2 separate regions of the Homo sapiens genome follow, and region 1 is reported to be linked to region 2. The links are microRNA targets in miRTarBase. Many come from high-throughput screens and were not tested one by one. Region 2 holds a microRNA gene; the other region holds the end of a gene's coding sequence.

Evidence for each region. The annotated mature microRNA hsa-miR-3163 reads UAUAAAAUGAGGGCAGUAAGAC and lies in region 2 at 1,805-1,826, shown strand. An mRNA with a match to its seed (bases 2 to 7 or 8) in the 3' UTR can be bound and repressed. Matches are read on the target gene's strand: a 7mer-m8 pairs with bases 2 to 8, a 7mer-A1 pairs with bases 2 to 7 and ends in A, and an 8mer does both.
Region 1: the mRNA of AVPI1 is a reported target of hsa-miR-3163. The part of its 3' UTR that is shown has no 7-base or 8-base seed match.

The regions. Positions count from the first base shown.
Region 1 is chr10:97,673,224-97,678,295 of GRCh38, forward strand. It overlaps AVPI1 (arginine vasopressin induced 1), which reads right to left. Exons shown (of 3, transcript NM_021732.3): 3 at 4,201-4,802. The coding sequence ends at 4,646. PI4K2A (phosphatidylinositol 4-kinase type 2 alpha) reads left to right here. Exons shown (of 9, transcript NM_018425.4): 9 at 358-3,211. The coding sequence ends at 519. Among named protein-coding and RNA genes, the nearest start is that of AVPI1, 11 kb to the right of the region's middle. RefSeq lists enhancers at 2,555-3,054, 3,872-3,941.
Region 2 is chr11:66,931,230-66,936,301 of GRCh38, reverse strand. MIR3163 (microRNA 3163) reads left to right here and starts at 1,796; the gene lies at 1,796-1,868. All of the region lies in intron 3 of PC (pyruvate carboxylase), which reads left to right.

The sequences.
Region 1 (5,072 bases), not on the chromosome of region 2:
CAAGTGATCTACCTGCCTCAGCCTCCCAAAGTGCTGGGATTACAGGCGTGAGCCAGCGTGCCTGGCAAGTATTTATTTTTTTGAATTCTCCCCAACTCTGCGTCGTTCTTTTGTATCTTTACTAACTGGAGGGCAAAAAAATAAAGGATTTGTTTTCATTTGTATTTTTTAAATGATTAGAGAGGTTTCCATTTTCTGTTTTGCTAATTTTTACTTTTGTAAATGGCCTATTTGCATGATTTTCCATTGGTATTTTAAAAAATTGATTTGTAGGCGTCCTCTCTACTGATCTCCTTTCAGAGGCAGATCTGGAATGCTGAGGCCTCTCCCTCACCCATCTCCTTTTTCCCACTGCAGATCTTAAATCTGACCCAGGCCTTGAAAGACAACAAGAGTCCCCTGCACCTCGTCCAGATGCCACCTGTGATTGTCGAGACGGCCCGTTCCCACCAGCGGTCTTCTAGCGAGTCCTACACACAGAGCTTTCAGAGCCGGAAGCCCTTCTTTTCATGGTGGTAGCTCCAGAGGCAGGCAGAGGAAATATTGTCAGAGACTGGTGGGAGGAAGCCTGGGGAGTGGGGTGCAGGAAAAGCCAGAGAAGCCGGTGGAGAGCAGCACCTTTAAGAGCCCTCTCTCTCTGCTTGCCACCCTGCTCAGAGCTTTCCACCCACAGGGAGAAGCACAATCAGGAACAGTGAGTGCTCCTCGCCCTTCTGATGTGGGGGAGGCTGGAGCTCCATGCACGTAGTCCAGATGCCTGGGAAGGAACATCTCCCTTCCAGCATCTGCTGGTAGCAGGCTGGGACAGTCCCTTCCTTCCCTGAAACCCTGCTCTATTGCAATTCCCTATTATATTCTGCATCAGAAAAACAAACAAAACAAAAACAACTTTAAATGCTTGTAGCAGAACCCCGGGTCATCTCATGTCAGAAACCTTTAATCCAGGCCTAAATTTGCATAGACCTGACATTCAGCTGCCTTGCAGTTGCTTCCTCCCATGAGCCAAGGTGGTGTCAGAGGGCAACTGGATGACTCGCAGTACCACAGCACTGGGACAGACAGAAGCCACACCTTTCTTTTGGGTTTTTGCCAAGCCTCCTCCATCTCCCATCAGTGCTGTGGGCTGGCTGCAAGCCTCGAAACAGTTCTCCTGGAAGGGAGGTTTTTGCTTTACCCCCGCCAGCACTTCCGCACACAATCATAGAGAACCTCTCTGCTCTCTGCTGGCCTACAGCTTGTCTGTTTCTCAAGCAGAGGCAGGAAGAGCTAGTCTTAGCATTTATATTTTAATAGGAAGTTGACTCCCAGCATGTAAAAGTGATCCACGCAGCCGGAGTGTATGCCGGGAGCTAAGTGGTCTATGGGTGAACATATCCCACCTTGCTTCCTGAGTCCTTGGTCCCAATCTTCTCATTTGTTCCTCTCGTTTTAAATTTTTTCCCCCCAACTCTTTTGATGTAAGAGTTCAGTTTGTCTTCGGGAGTGGGTCTCTGCAAGGGCTCTGGGATGAGTCTTGGCTTCCAAGAGGACAGGCTATTAGGTTCTTGGACTTTTTTCTGTGCTACCGCTGCTGCTTGGTGGAAGTAACAGGACGTGGATTCTGCCTCATAAGTGGCAGTTTCCCTTTTCTCTCTGACTTGTCCTAGGCCGATTTCTCTATGGCTTCCCTGAGAAAGGTGAGGCCCAAAGGAGAGAGGCCTTCAAACTGTCCCAGGTCCTGCGCAGCTCAGTGCGTATCTTCTTGCTTCCATGTGTCTTTTCCCCTGCTGCCTCACTCCCCACCCCCACTTGCCAGGTGTTTGAGCCATTTCTACACCAAAGCAAAGTACGGCCTCAGGAGGGAGTAAAAAGGGTGCCATCTGTGTCTGGAGGGGCAGCTGTGTTCATGCCCTGTGCTACTGGACATTTCACAATTCTGGCACCTTGCGATTGGTCAGTCAACCTCAGAAAGTAACTATCTTGAAGGTTTGAAAAACAACCAAAGAAAGGGAGTGAGGACTATGGCTGCATGTCCTCTGCTTGCCCGGCTGCAGAGCAGAGATGTGCAGCCCTCTGGTCAGCTGGTCCAGGCTGGTCCCCGCCGGTCCCCTTCCAGTCCAGCCACCAAGAGTCCACTTGTCCCGGGCTTCCACCTGGCTGACAGGAAGAATTTCTGAGAGCTGGATGTGCATGCCCTGTGGACGAAGGTACAGCTCGCCTGCCTGCCCCAATCCCAGCCCCGACAATCACATGCAGCTGACTCGGACACTGGCCTTGGGAACAATGTTCGAGAGAACACTTGCCCCTTGACTGTAGGAGCCAGAAGGGGACCCAGGTGTGCATAGCTCTCTGTAGACATTTTTACCCAAACCTGTTGGTAAAGTGCCCATCTGGTGCTCAAGAGAGCCTGGGGGTCTAACAGGGAGCCCGGCTGCCTCACCTGGCCACAGCCTCCACACCAGATCTCCACATTGTCTTGATCCAGACCAGCTCTGTGATCAGAAGGAAATTGGGTCCAGTGTAGGAGAGAGCTGGTCCTGGGCCTGGCAGGCAAGAGTGTGGGCATCCTTTCCTGGCCTTTCTCCACTCTCCCTCAAGCCTGTGCTCAGGTTGCCTTGAATGTGGACTCTGGAAGAGCCAGGGGCCCAGAATGCCGGGGGAGGCTTCTGAGTGGCACTCATGGAACACCGTCCCTCTGCCAGCCATAGGCCCTGCCTCCAGTGTCAGGGAATGGAGGCTGGGCTGCGAGAGTGTTGCTGCCCCCTGTGTCATTCTTCTAATCCAATGTAGAAATTGTACGTAATGTATTTAAATCAACGCAAATGTATGAATAACAAATACAGTTCTGACCTTTTTTGTCCAGTTTCTTTGGGGGAAGGAAGACAAAGAAGGTAGGAACGGAATTTTGAGGGCAAAGAAACCTGTGTTTCCATGGAATTGCTGAGACGTGGCTCCTGGGGCTATTTCTCCCTAATAAAGGATGATCCAGGTCCTCATTTCCAAAGTCCCAATGCTCTGAAAACCAAAAGTATTTTCATAACCCATTTGAAACCAAACCTGACCTGAACTTACACTGATAGGAAGCTATGGGTAATTATGATGTGTTCCTTTTAGTGTGATTCTTTGTTGCAGAAATGTCAATATATTTTATGACATGGTTCCCTACTAGGGATTATACAGTATTTGCTGACTACTTCCTAAGAGCCAAAAATAAAAAATCTGAATTCCAAAATAATCTAGTGCCAAGGGCTTGGGATAAGAAATGTGGACCTACAGGCTGGGTGCAGTGACTCACACCAGTAATCCCAGCACTTTGGGAGGCTGAGGTGGGTGAATTGCTTGAGGTCAGGAGTTTGAGACCAGCCTGGCCAACATGGCGAAACCTCGTCTCTACTAAAAATACAAAAATTAGCTGGGTGTGGTGGCACACGCCTGTAATCCCAGCTACTTGGGAGGCTGAGGCAGGAGAATCACTTGAACCCGGGAGTTGGAGGTTGCACTGAGCCGAGATTGCACCACTGCATTCCAGCCTGGAGTAAGACTTTGTCTCTCAGTAAATAAAAATAAATAAATAAATAAATAAACAATAAAATAAAAAAGAGGACCTACCTGACTCAAGGTAGTAGTGGTTCCTCCTCTTGGCCACCAGAGGGCAGCCCTGCCCTGTGTACATCACTGCCCCACTTCAAACCCTGAATAATCAAGCATATAGGGTGGGTGGAGAGGGAGAAGAAAGCTAATAAGCACAGAGTATGCCTCTCTTGAGGTGGAGCCAGAACTGTGGGAAAAACCCTGCCTTCAAGGGTTTCCAGGCCATGGGAAGCCTAGGATATAACGCAGGCAACTTCAGAATCATCAGTCCACCTTGGGATGGTCAGCCCATAAGGATGAAGAAACCAAATGAGGATCTGGCACCACTAGTTTGACTACAGATTAAGCCAGCCCAAGGCCTCAGCCTACTGTGCTGGGCTGACCATGACAGTCTTCCCCCTTCTCCTGATCCTATGGATCAGGACTGCTGCAGAGACTCCCCTCTTTACTCCCGATCCAACAGACTCTGGAAAAGGAGGCTGTGGTCCAGGGGCTCAGCATGGGGGTGAAAAAGGAGAGGGAGGTGAAAAGGAGAGAGGAGGCCAGCCCTGATTTTTCCTTCCTGGGGACACTCTTGCCCCTCCCACTCTGTTTCATTTCCTCCCCTTCTGTGACAGACTCACACAGCTCTTGATGCAAATGTTTTTATTTGCCACTTAAACTACAGTTTCCCTGTGCTATCCTGATGGTGTGGGGGTGTGGAACAGGCTGCTGGAACCATGGTTTACAGTAGTAGCAGGTAGATGATTAGTAGCATGAGTGGTGAAATGCTGCATCTAAGTGCCTGTCACTTTGCTCCCAGGGGAATATCATGCAGCCCAGGAATAGTGTTAGACTGGGAAGGACTGTGGCAGGAACAGTCACTGTCTCTCCTCATTTTGGTGAGGAATGGGTCCCACATAATGGAGAGCTCAACAGAAGCATCCAGTCTTGTTCTGAATGGAGCAGGTCAGTGGCAGCAGCCTCTTGCTTTCATTTACCCCTTTGGGCTGCTTGCCTAAAGTCTCTCTTCCTTCACCTCCCCAGGCCTTTTGGCAAGAGGGAAGACACTGCCATTCCTGGCTCTTTCCCTGGATCAGTGTCTGATCTGGTGGAGGTAGCTTGTGGGGCCTGACTTCCTCCAGTTCCGGCGGATCCTGGCACTTTTCTTCCTAGAGTGCAGATACTGCTCACTGGAGGCTGTCTCTGTGGCACTCTGTGGGTTGGCCAGTGCAGAGTGGGGCTCCAGGATTCTGCAGAGAACAAGTGTATGATTAGCCAACATCAATAGGAAGAATGGAATGGGGACTTCAAGAGATTTCGTCATGGTGGACCATAAAACATATGATTTGGAGCAAAATGAGAGCGGGGCTCTGCTCTGGTCTTTCCCCCTCTGAGAACTGTCTGACTAGACAAAGTTTACAGATTTCTCTGCAGTAGAAAGGGTTGGACCAGATCAGGTTGTGCAAAACTCAACATTTCTTCATCCTCATCCTGTACTCATGGCAGATGTCATAAGTCAT
Region 2 (5,072 bases):
TATTTCATTTTTTTCTTTTTTTCTCTCCCCCCCCACCTTTTTTTTGTGTGTGTGTGTGACAGGGTCTTGCTCTGTCACGAGGCTGGAGTACAGTGGCACCATCCAAGCTCACTGTAGCCTCCACCTCCTGGGCTCAAGCAATGCTCCCACCTCAGCCTCCCAAGTAGCTGAGACTACAGGCATGTGCCACCACACCCAGCTGATTTTTTTTTTTTTTTTTTTTGAGACAGGGTCTCACTCTGTCACTCATGCTGGAGTGCAGTGGTGCAATCACAGCTCACTGCAGCCTCAACTTCCAAGGCTCAAATGATCCTCCCACCTGAGCCTCCTGAGTAGCTGGGACTACAGGCATGTGCCACCATGCCTGGCTAGTTTTTGTATTTTTTGTAAAGACTGTGTTGCCCAGGCTGGTCTCAAACTTCTGAGCTCAAGCGATCCTCCTGCCTCGGCCTCCTGAAGTGCTGGGATTACAGGCATGAGCTACAGCACTTGGCTAGTTTTATTTTATCAACCAGTTTTCCCTGGAACTGGTTATGGTTGTGGTTTTGCTGCTTATGGATGACAGACCCGAGGTTCAGAGAGGTTCAGTGTCTCTCTCAGCTTCACTAGGAAGAGTTATAGCCAAGCTCTGACAGCAGCAAACCAGATTCTGGCCTGAGGTTCTCAGAATATGCTGCCGTTCCACAGGATGTTGCAATATGGTGTGGCAGGGTGTTACAGTGCACAGGGCTGAAAAGACCAACCTGAGACCCTCCCCTTTCCTTCTGAAGTTATCACTTCATGGACGTTTGCAGCTTTTATCATAAGAGCCATTTGTTGTCGCATGGCTTGTGGCCAACTGGGAGTCTACCTCCATCTAAGGCAGGGCTCTTCTCCCTGCCATGTTGCCCAAGGCTGTTTCAGTAAGACTGTAAGGTTTTCTTCAGCCCTCCTGGCTTTTGACTGCCCCATTCCAACTGGTTGCAAAATAGCTATTTGTGTTTTTGCTGACCTGAGCCATCTTTCTGTCCATTTATACTTCTGATATTCTTACGTGGCAATCAGTATCTAGCAGAATGAATGCCCCATTTTCTAATCCTGCGTTTTCTCAGTTGACTGAGTGGCTTAAGGAGGACAAGTTATTACTGGGCAGTACTCCAAGAAATGGTTCTTTCCTTCAGCATTTACTGTGCATCTGTGCTATGCACAGCTCCTTACTGGATGCTGTGAGGCCACAGGAGGATCTGACAAGGTGGCCTTGCCCTGAGTTGTTTATCCGTGGTTGGGAGAGAGGGAATGCACGTGCTGGACAAAATACATGCTTGCATAGTGACTGGCTAGCGTGGAAGAGTAGTAATGACCTCATTGATCCTGCTTCTGTGCCAGGTGAGATGCTAAATGCATAAACATACACAGGGGGCTGGGCGCGGTTGTTCACACCTGTAATCCCAGCACTTTGGGAGGCCGAGGCGGGTGGATCACCTGAGGTCAAGAGTTCGAGACCAGCCTGACCAACATGGTGAAACCTCATCTCTACTAAAATACAAAAAATTAGCTGGGTGTGGTGGGAGGCTGAGGTAGGAAAATCACTTGAACCCAGGAGGTAGAGGTTGCAGTGAGCCAAGATCGTGCCATTGCACCCCAGCCTGGGCAACAGAGTGAGACTGTATCTCAAAAACAAAAACAAAACACACATAGGGAATTACCGGGGAGTGGCATAGCAGAGTTGAGAGCATGGACCCTGGAGTCAGGCGGACAGGATGGAGTTCAGGCTTAGCCCTGATCAGCAAGTTCCTTAGCTTCTTCAAGCCTTGGTTTCCTCATCTATAAAATGAGGGCAGTAAGACCTTCCTTCCTTGTCTTACTACCCCCATTTTATAGATGAGGAAACCAACCAGTGGGGGCTGTTGGGTAGAGATCAAATGCAATAACTTTTGTACAAATGAAATAACACACGTTCATTCTGTACAAATGAAATAACACATAAACAAATGAAATCACACAGTCATGTGCCTGACACTTGGACACACCGTAATGGTGGCTCTGTTAATGGGACCAGTGATGAACAGTTAGAAGTGAACCCCTTGAGGGTAGAATATGTGAATCCGAGGCCCTGCAAGATGAGGGGACTCTCTCAGGTGGGTGGAGGAGCTGGTCCTCGCATGTGTGATATTTGAGTTCGTAGGAGGCGGGTGCCCCCGGACAGTGGCAATGGGAGTGAGGCCAGGTGATGAGACAGAGGGTGATGCCCCAGCCTCGCTGGCGTGGAGGAAGGCAGTGGGAAGCCGGCAAGGGTGGAGGTTGTGCCTGCATTGATCACTGTGGAATCCTCAGGGCCTAGCACTTGGGAAGCAATGTTGGAGTGTGCTGGTGGGGCGTAGTGAGCATTAGGGCTGGAAGTTCATTCTGTGAACCCCAGCTGCGTGTTGGGATTTGAGACAATAAGAAGCCCCTGAGATGCTTGAGCCAGGACTACCCAGAGGTGAATGGGATTTTTGGAAAACCTCTGGGCGGAGTGGGTGGCTGCCTGGGAATGGGGAGAGGCAGAGGTTGGGTGGGGACTAGCTCAGCAGGGAATGTAACTCAGACATTCCGGAATGATGCAAGTGGAGGTTAGGGAAGTGGTTGCAATGGGAAGGAGGTGGCAAATATAAAGTGTCACAGAAGAAAAGTTGTCATGGGGCCAAGTGGAGGGAGGGATTGGAGAGCTCTAAATTGCAGCTCAATCTTCATCTTGAAATGCAGGATGGAAAAAGCCACCCCATTTATTTAGCTAAAGGGAGCTGACTCCAAGACCTGAGGTCGGGGAAAAGTGGAGAGACAAATAGAAAAGAAATAGGGAATTGGGACAGGGCACCATCTTTCGGGATGGTGGGCTTTTAAGCCCAACTCAGCATTTCCTGAGAAAATTGAGATAGCTTGAGACCAGAGCAATAAGCGTTGAGACTTACCCGGAGAAAATGTTACCCAGAGAGGAGAAAGGGCTGGTAGGGCCTGAAGATTCTTGAGCTGATTTTCCCCAGTTCTTGCCTCTTAGTGCCTCCCATTTCTCCTCATCTGACGGTTTCTGGGTGAGACAGTTGCATCTCATCTGTGGTAGGCTGCCTACTGCTTGGTGAGCCTGGGCTGAAGGGCTGAGGCCTCTGGAAGAGCTGTCAGGAGAGAGACACCTTCAGGGTACTTGGAGCTTTCGCCTTGCTTCCAGGGCGGGATAGGTGGAAGCTGAAACTGCCTCCTAGCAAACAGATTTACACTGATCAAAACAAAGTATTTGTAGGTGTTAGAGTTAAGAGGTTGAGGTTTTCCGTTGGATTTTTTAGGTGCATGGTGGAAGAGGTATTTTAGACGAAGGATTCTCCTAGCAGACACAAAATATGAATTAAGAACACTTGTTTCTGTTTTTCTCCCAACTACTTCTTGATATTCATAGTTCCTGGTGCTGGGACTTTGGAATGGGTTTTGGTGTGCAGAAAAGACAGGGCATTTGCTGCCAACAGGGGACATAATTGAGACTAAATTCACAAGATAAGGGATGGTATGATTTACCTTCCAAGAAAAGATCTGTGTCTGGTCCTGTATCTGGCTTCTTTCTTTATTGCTTTTGCAGTTCTGAATCAGTTTTCTTTCCCCGATGGCTAGCTTCTCCAGCTGGAGAGAACACACAGTTTAAAGAGGCTTTCCCCCCAGGGCCAGATTAAGGATACTTCTGGGCTAAAGGGCAAATGCAGCCATTCCTAGCAGATTTATGGCCCCGAAAGGACATTTCGGCCACTGCATCTGCGAGATTTTTGTCCCACATCAGCTAGCCCAGCAGCGTAAGCCCAAGGGTTTAGTCATTGACAGAGTCCAACCAAGGGGTCTCTGTGGAACCCTGGGCTTGAATGGGCTGGAGTTCTACCCTCCCATTGAAATCATTTGAGATGGTAGAGTGCCTTCCATGCTGAAAACAGGTCTCATGTAACAGTTACTGATGGGGCCAAGGAAGCCCAGGTATGACCTAGGTAACTCCTCAGAGATGCTACTGTTGAACCTAATAGTCTTCTAGCAGGTTACCAAGCGGTAATCCAAAGAGTTAGTGTTTAACTTAAAAAAAAAGGTATTCAGTTTAGCTATGTAATACTTGCACCTTGTACAAACATTGAAATGTATGAGTCTCCTTTTTCCTCTCTCCCCAGTAACCCAGTCCCCTCCCAGGAGGCCACTTCCGGTTAAATTATCTTGTCTGTCCTCTTGGAGGTGGTCTGCCCTTTGAAATAGAAACATATTTCCTTTTTTCTTTTTCTTTTTCTTTTTTTTTTTTTTTTGAGACAGAGTCTCGCTCTGTCGCCCAGGCTGGAGTGCAGTGGCGTGATCTTGTCTCACTGCAAGCTCCGCCTCCCGGGTTCACGCCATTCTCCTGCCTCAGCCTCCTGAGTAGCTGGGACTACAGGCAACTGCCACTATGCCCGGCTAATGTTTTTTGTATTTTTAGTAGAGATGGGGTTTCACCGTGTTAGCCAGGATGGTCTCTATCTCCTGATCTTGTGATCCACCTGCCTTGGCCTCCCAAAGTGCTGGGATTACAGGCGTGAGCCACTGCGCCCGGCTACAGAAACATATATCTATTGTTTGTTTCTCCTGTGCCCTTTCTGCTCCATGCCCTTTTCATTTATCAGTGTATCTTGGAAATCGTCCGATGTCAGCACAAATAAAAAGTCTGCAGTACTCTGTGTGCCATTGCATGTTTTTTTTTCTTCATTTTGCCATTTGTTTATTGCAAAATCCCACACTTAACAGAAGACATGTTTAAAACATATGAGTATGTTAAAACAAAATAGTAAAATGAACATCTATGTTCCCATCCCTAGGTTAAGGTTAGGACCATATAAGCCCCCTATGTTCCCTCCCCGGTTGAAGTCCCTTCCCTCAGCTATTCCTTTTTTTTTTTTTTTTTTTTTTCTTGAGATGGAATCTTGCCACTCTGCTGTCCAGGGTGGAGTGCAGTGGTGCCATCTCGGCCCACTGCAACCCCTGCCTCCTGGGTTCAAGTGATTCTCCTGCCTCAGCCTCCTGAGTAGCTGGGACTACAGGTGTGTGCCACCATGCCCGGCTAA